Regions from separate parts of the Homo sapiens genome. Here region 1 is linked to region 2. The links come from fine-mapping of genetic effects on gene expression. Tissue or cell type: whole blood. Region 2 holds a variant in brackets; the other region holds the start of a gene. All regions are shown on one strand. Distances are from middle to middle.

What was found. PIP is the estimated chance that this variant, and not a neighbour inherited with it, causes the effect.
Region 1: RHOBTB2-AS1 starts here. The variant in region 2 is fine-mapped to the expression of RHOBTB2-AS1 in whole blood (TOPMed, PIP above 0.99).

Annotation. Positions count from the first base shown.
Region 1 is chr8:22,995,754-23,003,933 of GRCh38, forward strand. It overlaps RHOBTB2-AS1 (RHOBTB2 antisense RNA 1), which reads right to left and starts at 4,052. Exons shown (of 2, transcript XR_007060857.1): 1 at 3,926-4,052. It overlaps RHOBTB2 (Rho related BTB domain containing 2), which reads left to right and starts at 3,795. Exons shown (of 10, transcript NM_015178.3): 1 at 3,795-4,352. RefSeq lists silencers at 3,475-3,734, 3,955-4,124, 4,455-4,504 and an enhancer at 8,002-8,180.
Region 2 is chr8:23,032,331-23,040,510 of GRCh38, forward strand. All of the region lies in intron 2 of TNFRSF10B (TNF receptor superfamily member 10b), which reads right to left. Among named protein-coding and RNA genes, the nearest start is that of TNFRSF10B, 33 kb to the right of the region's middle. The variant T/A (reference allele first, on the strand shown) is at 3,604.

The DNA.
Region 1 (8,180 bases), 37 kb before region 2:
GGGTAGGAACACCACGTGCCCCAGCCTGCACATGGCAGGGGATGGGGGGCGGAGCTCATGTCACAAGGCCCATGGGGTGGGCTCCGCAGAGGCTGTAGTGTTCCAGGAGAGGGGTGCCATGAAAGCGCGGTTAGTAGCCTGCAAAGTGTTGAAGGGTAAAGCTGCCTGTGAAGCAAAGGGAAGGTGCAGGTTGGAGGATGGACTGAGCCAGGCGGTCTGCGTTGGGCTGGCACTGGGAAGGGGCCTTCACAGCCACAGGGAGAGCAACGCTGGTGGGACTGGCCGGGGAGCCTGCTGCGCTTTGCTAAGAGCCAGGATGGAGGTTTCTCTTTCCCCAGAAAAGCCTCCTGTTCACAGGCAGGCATCTGCCCGGCTTCAGGAAAACAGCAGCCGCGTGATGGCCTGGAGGAGGGTGGTGTGGGGAGGCATAGAGGGGGTGCCTTCTGGGGACAGGTTCCAGGGGTTTATGTCACTGGGGAGGTGGGTCACAAGAGGGATTTGGTGAGGGAAGAGATGCTGGGGTTGGGCAGGGGCAGGAGATTGTAGAATGGAACCTGCCTCCATGCTGCCAGGAAGCCCTTGGGCTACAGCCACGCAGCCAGGCACATGGCAGGACATTGCCAGACCCACCAGCAGAAGCAGATTTGGGAAGCCAGCAATGGGGGGAGTCAGTGCTCAGGCTGAACTGCTCCTCGGAATCACACCAGTGTTTCCAAGCTGCAGCAAATGGGCAGAGAGGGCTGGTGTGTGTGTGTGTGTGTGTGTGTGTGTGTGTGTGTGTGTGTGTGTGTGTGTGTGTGTGTGTGTGTGTGTGTCTGTGTGTCTGTGTATGTAACGGAATGGAGGAGGCAGAGAAAGAAAGAGGCCAGGAGCTTTTGTCTCCCACCCAGGCCTGCCTTGAGAAGTCACCTGAATAGAGGAAAATGGACTCCTCAGGGCCTGGGGTGGGAGGGCGCAGTGAAGGGAGTGGGAGGCTTCCTGTGCTGTGAGACGCTGCTGCCTGCCGGGTGCTAACAGCTGGGGACAGGGATGGGCATGAGAAGGCCCAACAGCACCTTGCTTGCTGGTGGGGAAGCCTGGCCTCTGGGAGTGGCCCTGTTTTCCAGGATCTGGCATTGGAGAGATGGGCAAAGATGAAGGGACGTGCCAGATCCTCAGCTGGGGTACCAGGGGCTGGAGGCTGTCTTGAATAGCAGAGTGGGGGTCCCGGGGCAGTCCTGGCCAGGGCTGGCTGGGAAGAGGCCTGGTTTTAGCCACAACTGGGGCACAGGCCGGCGGCTGCAGCTTGCTAGTGGTCTGCCCCTCATACAGCGTGGGGAATGCTGCCATCTGAGCTGTGAGTAGTGAACCGCTGGAGCTCCTCGCAGGCTGGCCTGAGGAGGAGGTCTGCAGAGGTCCCCAGACGGCCTAGGGTGGGACATGGATGGGGCGGCTTGACAGTGACAAGGGGCTGCAGAGGATGGGCTGGGGGGCACTGGTAGGAGAAGGTGGGGACTTGGAGGAACTCTGATGATAAGAGGGAACTGATTGGGGCGCCAACCATGACAGCCCTAGAGGTGAAATGATGGGGAAGGACTTTGATTTGGAGAAAGGCTGAAAGAGGGAACTGCATGCAAAAAGCAGGGCTGGGAATTGAGGGAACCTCCCCAGCAAAGCTCCTGCCTCTGCCTGAAACAGTTCACTGAGTGTGAGCGGGGCGGGGCGGGGGCTGTGGGGGTGCAATTTCATTTGACACCCACATTTTTGTCCAAGACCCTTCCACCCCAATCAACACTACACCTTGGAATTCACACAGTCCAGCCTGGTTGAGGCTTCCAGGCTGAGCTGGCTTTTTCTCCCAAGGCAGAAAGGGCATTGGCTCTAGCTTACAGTCCGAGCAGCCACCCTCTCCTGCTTCATGACTTTGGGTGGACGGGAGTTCTGTCTTCCTACTCCTTGCTCCACAGGGGCTATGGTCCTGCCAGGACAGGTGAAAGGTGATGTCAACTGGCATCTGGCATTCAGCTGGTCTCTGGAGGTGGGTGGAGGGAACAGGGTGTCCGTGGGAGAGACCCTGGCCTGCCGTGGGAATCATGCAGAGATCTCAAGTTATGATTTTCTCTGGCGCAGGGGCTCTTTGGCACACAGAAGATGGGGTAAGTCTCTTCAATGCCAAACATGTGGAGGAAGAACATGTGTGAGCATGGTTTACTTTCTCTCCTAAATATGTATTCAAATAAGTACTTTCTGGTTTATGGAGGGTGAGTTCTAACCAGAAATGAGAAGTAAGTAGCACTGTCAGTCATTGTTAACCTCTTGGCTAGCTCTGAGTAGATTGAGAAAGGGGTGGGAGAAGCATCCTCCAACAACCGAGCACTTCCTGTACATTGACCAGGTAGGTAGGCACGTTGATCACAAACACCTTGAGGGACAGCTTCCAAGTATATGCATTCACAGATGAGAAGCATGCTTCAGACAACACAAAATTCATTTTTAACCCGGCTTTCTTTTGGCAGTAAATTTCTCTTCCTAATCATATTTTGCATAAACTAATATTAGAGTGGATTTGCATTTTCAGAGCACAAGATGGAGGAGTGGTGGAGGCGGTTCAGGTGGGTGGCAGGCTGGTCTGGGCTTTAAAAATTGTCCAGAGGTAACTGAGGAGATGAATCAAACCAGACTGAGCTGACTACTTAACACTAGCAGTCAAGATCATCCTGGCTGGGCATGGTGGCTCACGCCTGTAATCCTAGTACTTTGGGAGGCCAAGGCAGGCAGATCACCCGAGGTCAGGAGTTCGAGACCAGCCTGGCCAAGGTGGTGAAACCCCGTCTCTACCAAAAATACATAAATTAGCTGGGAATAGTGGCGTGCACTTGTAGTCCCAGCTACTCGGGAGGCTGAGGCAGAACTGCTTGAACCCAAGAGGCGGAGGTTGCAGTGAACCAAGATTGCACCACTGCACTCCAGCCTGGGCAACAGAGGGAGACTCAAAAAAAAAAAAAAAAAAAAAAGATTATCCTGATAAAACCAGCCTTGAATATGGAAAGTGTCTTCTAGGGACCCCTCAGGTTATAGATGTTATACCTTAGAATCTCTCTATTTTACAGAGGGGTAAATTGAGGCAGAAAACCCAAAGAAGGCTTAGGGACGATTTTCGAGGCTACTCACTTCATGGTGTTTCTTTCAGAGATTAGCAGCTATTACTGAACTCCAGGAGGCAACAGGAGGGGGATGGGATGGAGGTGGGGACCCGCTGAAGAAGGCCTAGGTGGGAGACAGGTAACGTGGTACAGGTACCCACCCCACAACTCATTAAGGGCCATGGAGGGAGGAAGGCTCTCAAGTGCCACGAAAATTCCCAAAGCAGCAGAGGGCTTGTATGGAAACGCCGGTTATTCGTCCCTACCCGGCCCCCGCCCCCCGCCCCCCCGACTGCCCCTGCCGTCGCCTCCCCGTGGGCAAGTGGTGGGGGCCTGGGCTTACAACCACACGTTCTCCTCCAACTAGCATCCCTTCCAGGGTGCACTAGGATGCCTCTCAGAGGTTCTCCCCCGCCTCCCGAAGGAAAGGGGAAAACCCCGTGGGCGTCCGGAGAGCCTTTGCGCCTCGCCAGGTGGAGGGACCGGCGCCACCCAGACCCGCGAGCCGAGACCCTCCCCGCGGCGTCGCTGCGGGAGGGGCGGAAGAGCGCGGGCGGTGGGCGGGAGCGGTGCTGCGAGGCGGGATCTGCGGGGCGTCCAATCCCCTTCTTCCCCCGCCCGCCCCCTCCCCGCCCCCCGAACGCTTTCCACCAACTGCGCGCGGCAGTGGGCGGGGCCCGTCACGGCTGTCGTCTTGGGTGCGATTTTTTTCTCCTCCTTTTTTTACCCTCCCGTTTTTTTCTTTTCTTTTTTTTTTCCCTATCCTTTTTTTGTGAATGAAAAAAGGAGGTCGCGAGCGGTACCTGGGACTGCAGCGCCAGGCGTCTTCGCGGCAGCGCCTTCGCCGCGGGCCCGGGCGCGTAGCGGCGGCGGCCTCGCCCCTCTCCCGGCGCCCCTGCGCGCCGCCCGCTGCCTCCGCAGCCCGGCTCCGCGCGCCGCCGTGACATTGGGCGCCTGGCGCGCGGGGCGATGCTGATCCGGAAGGGGCAGCGGCTGCAGTGCAGCGCGCGCGTCCGCTCCTGGGCCCACGTCCGGCCTGGGCTGCCCTGCCGGAGTTTCTGAGTGGCCGCGAGCTGGCCGGGAGGCTGGAGCCCAGCAGCAGCGCGGCGGCGCCGGCGTCGTCCCAACTTGCAGGCGCGGAGGGACCCCTGACATTTCACTAAAATGAGCGTGCTCAGCAGGAAGAGATGTGTTCCTCACGCTAGAAGCCACCCCGTCACATGTAGTGGTGTAAGTAGATGGCTGCTTGCGGTTATGGCGGGGTGGCCAGCAGCCCTTGCAGACGCGCCGCTCCGCCCTCCCTGCCCTGCCGCGCCCCTCGCTACGTTCCCCGGGCCCCGCTAGTCCCTGGGCTCTGGCTTCGGCTGCTGGGTACAGCGGGGCTGGAGCCTAATCCTTTCCGGTGTTTCTAGGGAAAGGAAGATGACTTGATTGCTTCGGCCTGTCGTGCCCCTCCCCCTTCTCGATGTTTAAAAATTTTTAAATTTCTATTTTGTGTGTGTGCAGAGTAGCGTGTCAGAAAAAAGGAAAAACGGTCCAGAGTGGTGGGAGTGATTCTGTTAAGAAAACAAACACAAAACAACAGTGGAATTGGGGTGTTTTGCTGGCGGTTCCGGAGCTGGTTCTTTGAACTCAACTCCATTGCAGTCTATGTAACTGAGTTCTGTGAAACTACTGGGGAGATCTTTGGCGGTGTTTGGTGATGTGTCCACATTTTAGGTTTGAGGGGGCTTATCTGTGTTTAGGCTTGCATTTCTTTAATCTGACCATTCAGGGTCCCTTTGGGCCTTGCTTTCTGTTGGATCTGCACGGGGCTTCTTGCAATGCCAGCGACCCCCGTGGGAGCCTCCCCGAATTAGGAGTCCACTCTCTCTTTGTTCTTCTCCTTCCAATTCTCCATTCAATCCATCTCCCTTGATTTTACCTTCATTTTCAGGATTTTCCTCCCATTCCCATTTTGTAAGATGATGTGGGATACTGGTTGCTAGGAGACAAGCCAGGCTCCCAGGGAGATTCTGTTGTTTCCTTGACAACCAGACTAGGGCAGCCACAGATGAACAAGCCTCCTATCAGCTGTGGGAGGGAAAGGGGCCCTTTCTGAGCTCTGCAAAGAGTGTGTGTAGGGGTGTGGGGGTGGGACTGGGAGAGCACGAGGTTTGTAGCTAATTTCAGCACACCTTGGGTTTTGGCTTGCACCAAGTACAAAGAGCTGGGAGAGCGGTGGGCAGGAGGCTGTTTTTGGAGGGGCACAGGGATCATGGGACAGGGATGGAAGGAACACATGCCAGTGACTTTGCGATTGTCATGGAAGAGGAGTGAGTTGGGGGTTGTGATGCCCAGGGCTGGGTGGTGAGGAGGTCATAGTTTATGGAGGTTGATTGAGTGGGGATGAGGCAATTGTGAGGGAGAGTCTGGAGTCAGGGAAGAAGAGAGAGCCGGAGGGAGAGGGGAAGCTGAGAGGCTCACTGAATGGGCTGTATCACCATATATCAGCAATGAGTGGGCTGTATCACCATACATCAGCAATGATACAACATCAGCAACATCCTAGGGCAAAAATTATATTACTCTTGGCACACTCTCTCCAGGACAGGATCCTCCTTTAAGACAGGCCTGATTAGACTAAGAGTTCTAACACTTGAATTGGGCCAGTCTGTATCTTAAAGACAGATATAATTACACATATAGATATGCAATCTAGCATTATATAATACCACATTACATAAGAAGACAAATACCTCCTTTCAGCCCAGCCTCTCTTGGCACAAATTAACCACGGTTCAGGAGACTCTTCCAATGTCTTCATACCCATTTCCCAGAGGGGGAGACTGATGCCCAGAAAATATAAGTGACTTGCCTCTTCCTAGATAGGACAGTGAAGTTTGCCAGTCAGGCAGTTGGGACAGGGTAGAAAGGGTGAGATGATACAAACAGAGAGGCAGCTGAAGGACAAGGGGACTGCTGAAGGGGCTGGGGAATGGATGGAAGGGGTTGCGCAACCCAGAAGGTCTGATGTCTAAACTCATGGCACAGTATTTGTCAATTTCCACTTGTTGATTGGCTGACCACTGCTTAACTCTAGAGGTGACATAGCACAGGTGGGCAGCAGTGTTTTCATCACAAAGTAGCTGAACTTGGCCCAGCACTGCTCTGCTGGTGTTCTGGCATTATTCTCACTGTCAAGGTGCTCCTGAATTTGAGAACTGGCATCCCTCCATTAGGCCTCCTCATTCCCCCGCTTCTGTCTACAGACCTACATGCTGGGAGAATCGGAACTTGAGAAAGAAGTTCTTTTGGCTCTTGGGTTTTAATCTTTATCCTCCAGCTGCACATATTTTGTATTTGGGATTATATCTGTTTTGGTATTCACTCGACAAAACAGAAACCACAGCCCAGATGCTGCCTCCTGGCGCCAGCACATTCCTCAACTTGAGATCAGGAACTGTCAAAGTGGGGTTCCCGGTCCTCAGTTCAGGAGAGAGAATTGGGAGGAGGAAGCCTGTGGTTAGAATAACAGTTCTTAACAGTTCTCTGGGCCAGGTGTGGTGGCTCACGCCTGTAATCCCAGCACTTTGGGAGGCCAAGGCGGGCAGATCACTTGAGGTCAGGAGTTTAAGACCAGCCTGACCAACATGGCGAAACCCCGTATCTACTAAAAATACAAAATTAGCCGGCATAGTGGCACACACCTGTAATCCCAGCTACCTGGGAGGCTGAGGCAGGAGAATCACTTGAACCCAGGAGGCAGAGGCTGCAGTGAGCCGAGATCATGCCACTGCACTCCAGCCTGGGTGTCAAGCGCAAAACTCCGTCTCAAAAAAATACAAAAACAAAAAACGGTTGTCTGCTGAGGGAGGGTTAGGAGAGAGAAGGGGTGGTACAGTTGCCCTGGAGACCATGAGGGCACTGCATGGAGACCTCGTTGAAGGGTCCAGATCCTGTAACATTCCAAAAAGGCGGAGGAGGTTGTCTCATTGAGAAGTCCTTGCTGCACTTTTTGCTTAGGTTGCTGAGATGCATCCACTCGCACGGATCCCAGTTGCTATCGTTACTTGGATATTTCGGTCTGCATCCCTGCATGCTGGCATCCAGTTACAGCCCAGCAGGAATGGAGCCTCCCTGTTGTTGCTGGTGGCCTGGCTCTGGGCTGGATGGCTCAGCAGCCAGGGTGCCTGGGCAGCCTCCAGCACTCAGAGCTCAGCCTTCCTTAGCCTAGGAGGGATGACTCCGGGCTGCTAAAGCCCCCCCAGACGACTTTCATACACACAGGAATGTGAGTGGGGCGGGCAGATGACGCTGGCGAAACCAAGCGTCCTAATCACGCTGGCCCTGCCCCTGCTCCCTAATCCCAGGAGGGTGGATGCCGAGGCCAGGGCCTCCTGGCGACAGATTTTTAAACACGAACATGACATCTGACTACAGAAGTGCCTTCTGTTTGTTCATTCAAGCCATCCCTCTCTGGGGGTGGACAAGCCACTTCCTCTCTGCTCAACATCGAAGGCAACTGAGGCAAGCATTTGCCCAGAAATTCAGGCTCAAATTTCTGATCTTTTGCTTTCTGGCAATCCCATCGCCCATGTAGCCAGTTTAGTGAACATCACCTAGGAGTGCCAGCTGCCTGGGATCTTCAGCCTGAGGATCATCCTCCCTAGGAATGGGAAGGGCAGAAGAGGGTGGAGGTGGATCTCACTCTCTGACGCTGGGGGCAGGGTGCTGGGAGGACAGCCCCCCGTAGGGGAAGTAGAGGCCCATTGGCCACTGACTGTATCATCATAGGCCTGTGGTTCCCCTCACCCGCATCTGAAAGCTGGACCTGTAGCTGAGCATGACACATGGGCAACAGGACAGACCCCGAATAGAGAAAGGGAGGCCCCTGGGCTGGTCAGGTGCATCCAGGAACCTCCCCATCCTAGAGAGGCTGGGAGGAAAAACTCTTGCATCTCCATAAAGGGGACTGGGGTCTGGGGTTGAAGCATGCACTTAGGCAGGCTAGGGCTTGGAAATCCACCACCACCAGAGAGGGCAAGGGAAAGAGTGGAGGCCAGGAGAGCTGCTGCC
Region 2 (8,180 bases):
AAATTAAAGCTCACACCATCAGCCATGGGAAGAAAACGGGAGGAATCTCTATAGAGTCAAAGAATGATCCAAAGAAAAGGGGACTAAAGCTGCCCTGGAATGAGGATATGTTTCAAAATTGGAAAGTGTGAGTCCCGCCAACTCTGCTTTTCTTTTACCAGATTGTTTTTGGTCAATAAGTCTTTTTAATTCCATACGACTTTGAATATAAGTTCTTCCATTTTTAAAATAACACCACTGAGATTTTGGTAGGGATTTCATTGAATCTGTATATTGCTTTGGGTAATTTAACACCATTTTGATCTATGAACATGGAATATCTTCCTGTTTATTTTGCTTTTTTAAAATTTCTTACAGCAATGTTTGATAGTTTTCAGCGTAAAAGTTTTGCAGTAGCAAAGAACAATCCAAAAAGGAAATTAAGAAAACAATTTCATTGACAATGACATAAAAATGAATAAAACATTTAGGAATGATATTTAACAAGGAGGTGCAAGACTTTTAAAAAACATTTGTCTGCACATCCAAGAAACTCAATGATCTCCAAGCAGGATAAGTTAAAAGAGAACTACACTGAGACACATTATAGTCAAATGGACAAAAGCCCAACACCAACAGAAAATCCTGAAAGTAGCAAGTGGCCCACTCAGTATGTACAAGGGAACCTCAATAAGGTTATTAGCTAATTTCTCACCAGGAACCATAGAGCCCAGAAGGGAGTGGGTAACATATTTAAAGTGCCAAGAAACAAAAACACAAGCATACAAAATCCTGCAACCAAGAATTTGATATCCAGGAACATTATCATTCAAGAATGAAGAAGAAATTAAGACCTTCTTAGATAAATGAAAGGTAATGGAGCACATTACTAGTAGATCTGCCCTGTGAAATGCTAAAAGGAATCCTTTAGGAGGTAATGTAATGACATTAGATAATAGCTCAAAGGCATACGAAGAGATAAAGAACACTGGAGGCCGGGTGCGGTGGCTCACGCCTGTAATCCCAGCACTCTGGGAGGCCGAGGCGGGCGGATCACGAGGTCAGGAGATCGAGACCATCCTGGCTAACACGGTGAAACCCCGTCTCTACTAAAAATACAAAAAAAAATTAGCCGGGCGAGGTGGCGGGCGCCTGTAGTCCCAGCTACTCGGGAGGCTGAGGCAGGAGAATGGCGTGAAACCCAGGGGCCGGAGCCTGCAGTGAGCCGAGATTACGCCACTGCACTCCAGCCTGGGCGACAGCGAGACTCCGTCTCAAAAAAAAAAAAAAAAAAAAAAAAAAAAAAAAAAAAGAACCCTGGAAAAGGTAACTATTTAGGTAAATATAAATGCTGGTACGCAGCTACTTAGGCTGCTATAATAAAATACCATAGACCAAGTGGCTTAAACAATAGACATTTATTTATCATAGTTCTAGAGATGGCCACCATCTTGCTGTGCATTTGCGTAACCTCTTCCTTGCACACACCAGAAGAGGGGGGGAGAGAGAGAGCGAGCAAGCGAGAGAGAGCAAGTTGTCTGGGTCTTTTCTTAAAAAGGCACTAATCCCATCATGAGGGCCCCACCCTCATGACCTCATCTAAACCCAATTACTTCCCAAAGGCACCATCTCCAAATACCATCTCATTGGATGGTAATGCTTCAACATATGATTTTGGGGACACAATTCAGTCTGTAGCACAGTATTATGGTACATTTGGTTTGTAAATCCTCTTATTTACTTATATGATTTAAAGAGCAAATGCAGAAAACAATAATTACAAATTGATGTTAATGGGCACACAATGTACAAGGATGTGATCTATAACAACAAGATGGAGGAGGAAAGACGGAGAAGTACAGGAGCACAGTGTTTGCATACCATTGAAGTTATGTTGTCATTACTCAAACTAAGCTCAAGTCCATCTCAGAAAGGGGCCAGTGGGTCCCCACACCCATCCTGTCTGATTTCCTCATTTTAGTATGTGTAATTGGAATAGACATACTCAGCAGCTGGCACAATCCCCACCTTCATTCCCTGACATGTGAAGTGAAGACTATTATGGTGGAAAAGACCAGGTGGAAGCCACCAGATTTGCATTTACTTAAAAAAAATAGTAAATCAAAAGCAATACCAGATGGGCATGGTGGCTCATGTCTGTAATTCCAGCACATTGGGAGGTCAGGGCAGGAGGATTACTTGAGGCCAGGGGTTTAAGACCAGCCTGGGCAACACAGTGAGACTCCATCTGTACACACACATACAAAATTATCCAGGTATGACAGTACATGCCTGTAGTCTTAGCTGCTCAAGAAGCTGAGGCAGGAGGATTGCCTGAGCCCAGGAGTTCAAGCTGCAGTGTGCTATGATTGTGCCACTGCACTCCAGCCTGGGTGACAGAGTGATACCCTGCCTGTAAAGCACAAAAAAACAAAAGCAATACAACATTCCTGGAGGGATTGCAGAGATCATTACCACCATCCAGGATGCATCTGTGGTGATTCCCATCACATGCCCATTGAACTTGACTATTTGGCCTGTGCCAAAGACAGATGGATCTTGGTGAATGACAGTGGATTATCATACGCTTAACCAGGTGGTGATTCCAGTTATAACTGTCCCAGATATGGTTTCATTGTTTGAGCAAATCGCCACATCCCTGGTACCCTGGTATGCAGGTGTTGAACTGGCAAATGCTTTGTTGGTCATACCTGTCAATAAAGACTCCCAGAAGCAGTTTGCTTTCAGTTGGCAAGGCCAGCAATATACCCTCACTATCCTGTCTCCGGGATGCATCAACTCGCAGCCCTATGTCATAATTTAGTTTGCAGGTATTTTTTTTTTTTTAATTAAACAGAGTCTTGCTCTGTCTCTCAGGCTGGAGTGCAGTGGCATGATCTCAGCTCACTGCAACCTGCACCTCCTGGGTTCAAGCGATTCTCATGCCTCAGCCTCCCAAGTAGCTGGGATTACCCATGTGTGCCACCACATCCAACTAATTTTTGTATTTTTAGTAGAGATGAGGTTTCACCATGTTGGCCAGGCTGGTCTAGAACTCCTGGTCTCAAGTGACCCAGCCACCTTGGCCTCTCAAACTGCTGGGATTACAGGCGCGAGCCACCACATCTGGCCTGCAGGGATATTGATGGCCTTTCCCTTCCACAAGATAACACACAAGACGATCCATTATACTGATGACATTATACTGATTGAACCTCACGAGCAAGAAGTAGCAACTATTCTAGACTTAATGGTAAGACATTTGCATGTCAGGGGGTGGGAAATAAATCTGACAAAATTTCAAGGGCCTTTTACCTCAGTAGAAGGACAACAACTGGGAAACAAATTCCTAGTTGTTGAATGATGTGGCACATAAGATATTCCTTCTCTTCTAAGATATTCTAAGATAAAAGATAAATTGTTGTATCTGCCACCCCCACCTCCCTACAACCAAGAAAATGACACAATGCCTAGTGTGCTTATTTTGATTTTGGTGGCAACATATTCCTCATTTGGGTGTGTTTCTCTGGCCTATTTATCAAGTCACCTAAAAATGTGCTAGTTTTGAGTGGTGCTCAGAACAAGAAAAGGCTCTGCAACAGGTCCAGGCTGCCGTAGACATTT[T/A]TCTGTCACTTGGGCCATACGACCCAGCAGACCCAACGGTGCTTGAAGTATTGGTGGCAGACAGCAATGCTGTTTTGAACCTTTAGTAGCCCACTCTAGGTCAACCACAGCACAGGCCCTTAGGTTTTGGAGCAAAGACTTGCCATCCTCTGCAGATAACTACTCTCCTTTTGAGAAACAGCTCTTGGCTTGTTTCTGGGCCTTAGTGCAGACTGAATGGTTAACCATAGGCCACCAAATTACTCTACGACCTGACTGCTCATCGTGAACTGAGTGTTATTTTGCCTACCAAGCCATAAGTTTGGGCACATACAGCCTAAAGTTTCCATTTCCATTTTCAAATGTAATTGGTATATATACAAAATTGGGCTTAAATAGGCCCTGAAGGCACAAGAAAGTTACATGAAGAAGTGGCCCAAGTGCCCATGATCCCCACTCCTGCAATATTACTTTCTTTTGCCTGGCCTGCACTTATGGCCTCATGAGGAATTCCCTATGGTCAGTTGCCAGAAGAAGGTTTACAGATGGTTCTGCACCACATACAGGTAACCCTTAGAAGTGGATGTTTGCAGCATCACATCCACTGTCTGGGACGTCCCTGAAGGACAGTGGTGAAAAGAAATCCGCTAGGCCGGGTGTGGTGGCTCACACCTGTAATCCCAGCACTTTGGGAGGCCGAGGTGAGTGGATCACCTGAGGTCAGGAGTTCGAGACTGGCCTGACCAACATGGTGAAACCTCGTCTCTACTAAAAATACAAAATTACCGAGCATGGTGGCACATGCCTGTAATCCCAGTTACTTGGGAGGCTGAGGCAGGGGAATCACTTGAACCCGGGAGGCAGAGGTTGTAGTGAGCCGAGGTCGCCCCATTGCACTCTAGCCCGGGCAACAATAGCGAAACTCCGTCTCAAAAAAAAGAGATCCTGCCACTGGGCAGAACTCTGAGCAGTACACCTGGTTGTTCATTTTGCTTGAGGGAAGAATGGCTAGACATGTAGTTATATACTGATTCATGAGCTGTGGTCAATGATTTGGCTGGAGGGTCAGAGGCTCTGAAGGAAAACTGATAACAAGGAAGTCTGGGGAAGAGGTGTGTGGATAGACCTTTCTCAATGGGTAAAAAAACCATGAAGATATTTGTGCCCCATGTGACACAAATATCTTCACAAAAAGTGATCTTAGCAGGGAAGGATTTTAATAATCAGGTGGATAGGATGACCTGTTCTGTGACTACCAGTCAGCTTCTTTCCCAGCCATCCTTGTCATCACTCAATGGGCTCATGAACAAAGTGTGCATGGTGGCAGGGATGGAGGTTATGTATGGGCTTAACAATACAGACTTCCCTCACCAAGGCCAACCTGGCTACAGCTGCTACTGAGTGCCCAATCTATAGGCAGCAGAGTCCAACACTGAGTCTCTGATATAGCACCATTCAGAGGGTCAGTCTGCCAGCTACCTGGTGGCAGGTTGATTATTACACTGAACCATTTCTATCATGGAGGGGGCAGCATTTTTACTGGAAGAGAAGCTTATTTTGCACATAGACTTGCCTTCCCTGCATGCAATGCTTCTGTCAAAACTATCCTCTGTGGACTCACAGAATGCCTTATCCACAGTCATGGTATTCACACAGCATTGCTTCTGATTGAGGGACTCACTTGATGGCAAATGAAGCGCCCACTATAATGGGCCTGTGCTCATGGAATTACTGGTCTTACCATGTTCCCCACCATCTCAAAACTGCTGGCTTGGTAAGATGGTGGGATATGGCTTTTTGAAAACTCATTTACAATGTCAGCTGGGTGGCAGTACCTTGAAGGGCTGCAACAAGGTTCTCCAGGAGACTGTCTATGCTCTGAATTATCCTCCAATACATGCGGTTGCTTCTTCCATTGCTAGGATTCATGTGTCCAGGAATCTAGGGGTGGAAGCAGGAATGGCCCCACTCCACATTACCCTTAGTGGCCTGTTATCAAAATTTTTGCTGCTTTATGCTTTGCTAGAGCTCTGAGTTTCAGAGGGAGGAATGATTCCATGAGGAGACACAACAGTGATTCTGTGTAACTTGAAGACTGCCACTTGGCCACTTTGGGTTCCTCATGCCTCTGAATCAACAGGCGAAAACCAGTTACACAAACCCTGCTGGCTGGATTGACTGATTCTGAACACAAAGGGGAAATTGAAGGGAAAATTGGACTGTTATTCCACAATGGACGTAAGGAAGAGGATGTCTAGAATACAGGAGATTCCTTAGGGCATCTCTTAGTATTACCATGCCCTGTGAGTAAAGTCAATGGAAAACTACCACGACCCTATTAAAGCAGGACCACTTATAGCTCAGACCCTTCAGGAATAAAGGTTAGTTCACTCTACCAGGCACAGAGCCATGACCAGCTGAGGTGCTTAGTGAGGGCACAGGGAATACAGAATGCACAGCGAAAGAAGCTTCTTATAAATACCAGCTACAATGACATGACCAGCTATGGAAATAAGGACTGTAATCATTATAAGTATTTCTTCCTTATTGTGTTATGTGTGTGTGTTTATGTGTAAATATATGTTAAGCGAATATCTGTGTTTTCTTCCTTCTCTTATCCCCTTGTTATGTAACACAAGATATTTTGAATTTATATCATAGTATTTAAGTATTGTTCACTTTATAGTATTTATGTTCCAGGGTATCAAGGAAAGGAGTAAACACCACTCAAGAACTTTGCATCCTCTTCTGGAGAAAGGGTTAGTGCGTTTTCAGTTGTATACAGGATAGCTGTATTATGTTAGGTGGAAATATAATCTTATTATTTCCATTACTTGGAGATCAAGTATGGTTTAAAAGAATTTCAAATCTTTAAAAATTCTGTATTAGTCAGGGCTCTCTAGAGCAGGGGTCTCCAACATTTTTGCCACCAGGGACTGGTTTCCTGAAAGACAATTTTTCCACGGACTGGAGTTGGGGGCATGGGGATGGTTTCAGGATGATTCAAGCATGTTACATTTATTGTGCACTTTATTTCTATCACTATTATATGGTAACATATAATGAAATAATTATACAACTCACTATAACGTAGAATCAGTGGAAGCCCTGAGTTTATTTTCCTGCAACTAGATGGTCCTATCTGGGGGTGATGGGAGACAGTGACAGATCATCAGGCATTAGATTCTCATAAGGAGTGCGCAACCTAGATCTCTCAAATGTGGAGTTCACAATAGGGTTCACGCTCCTATGAAGTCTAATGCTGCCGCTGATTTGACGGCATGCAGAGCTCGGGCAGTAATGCTCACTCATCTACAGCCCACCTCCTGCTGTGTGGCCTGGTTCCTAACAGGCCACGGACCAGTACTGGTCCATGGCCTGGGGGTCAGGGGCCCCTGCTCTAGAGAGATAAAGATTTATCTTAAGGAATTGGTTCACATAACTGTGGAGGCTGGCAAATTCAAAAGGTACAGGATAGGCCAGCAGAGAAGAGTCACAGCTCAGGTCTGAAGGCTGCCTGCTGGCAGAACACCCTCTTTCTTGGTGGAGGTCAGTCTTTTTTCTATTGAGGCTTTCAACTGATTAGATGGGACCTGCCAACATTAAGGGGGTAATCTGCTTGACTCAAAGCCCACTGATTTAAATGTTAATCCCATCTAAAACCAACAACAAAACAACAACAACAAACACACCTTCACAGAAACATCTAGGATAATATTTGGCCAAGTATCTGGGTAACCAAGTTGACACATAAAATCAACCATCACAAGTCAACCTTGCTCCATACACATACATGTCCTTAAGATCGACGTCAGTGGTCACACAACGTGCAAGGATGTGATCTATGACAGCAACAATAGAAAGCTGGAGAGATGGAGTGGTACAGGAGCACAGTATTTGGATTGCAATGAAATTCTGCCGGTATTATAAAACTACCTGTTTAGATACTTAAGAAGGTAATTGTAATCTTCAAGGAAACCAGTAAGAAAATAAGTTTTAGGCTAGGTGCGTGGCTCATACCTGTAATCCCAACACTTTGGGAGGCCGAGGCAGGTGGATCACTTGAGGTCAGGAGTTTGAGACAGCCTGACCAACATGGTAAAACCCTGTCTCTGCTAAAAATCAAAAATTATCCAGGCATGGTGGCTACTCCCTGTACTCAGGAGGCTGAGGCAGGAAAATCGCTTAAACCCAGCAGCCATAGGCTGCAGTGAGCTGAGATCGCACCACTGCACTCCAGCCTGGGTGACAGAGCAGACCCTGTCTCAAAAAATATATATATATCTATATATATATTTAAGATATGTATCTTTAAGATATATACTAAGTATATATTTAAATATATATTTATTAAATATATATATAATATATATTTATTAAATATATATAATATATATTTAATAAATATATATACAAAATATATATTTATTAAATATATACAAAATATATATTTAATAAATATATATACAAAATATATATTTATTAAATATATATACAAAATATATATTTATTAAATATATATATACAAAATATATATTTATTAAATATATATACACAAAATATATATTTAAGAAAAACAGAAAATATATTTTAAAATA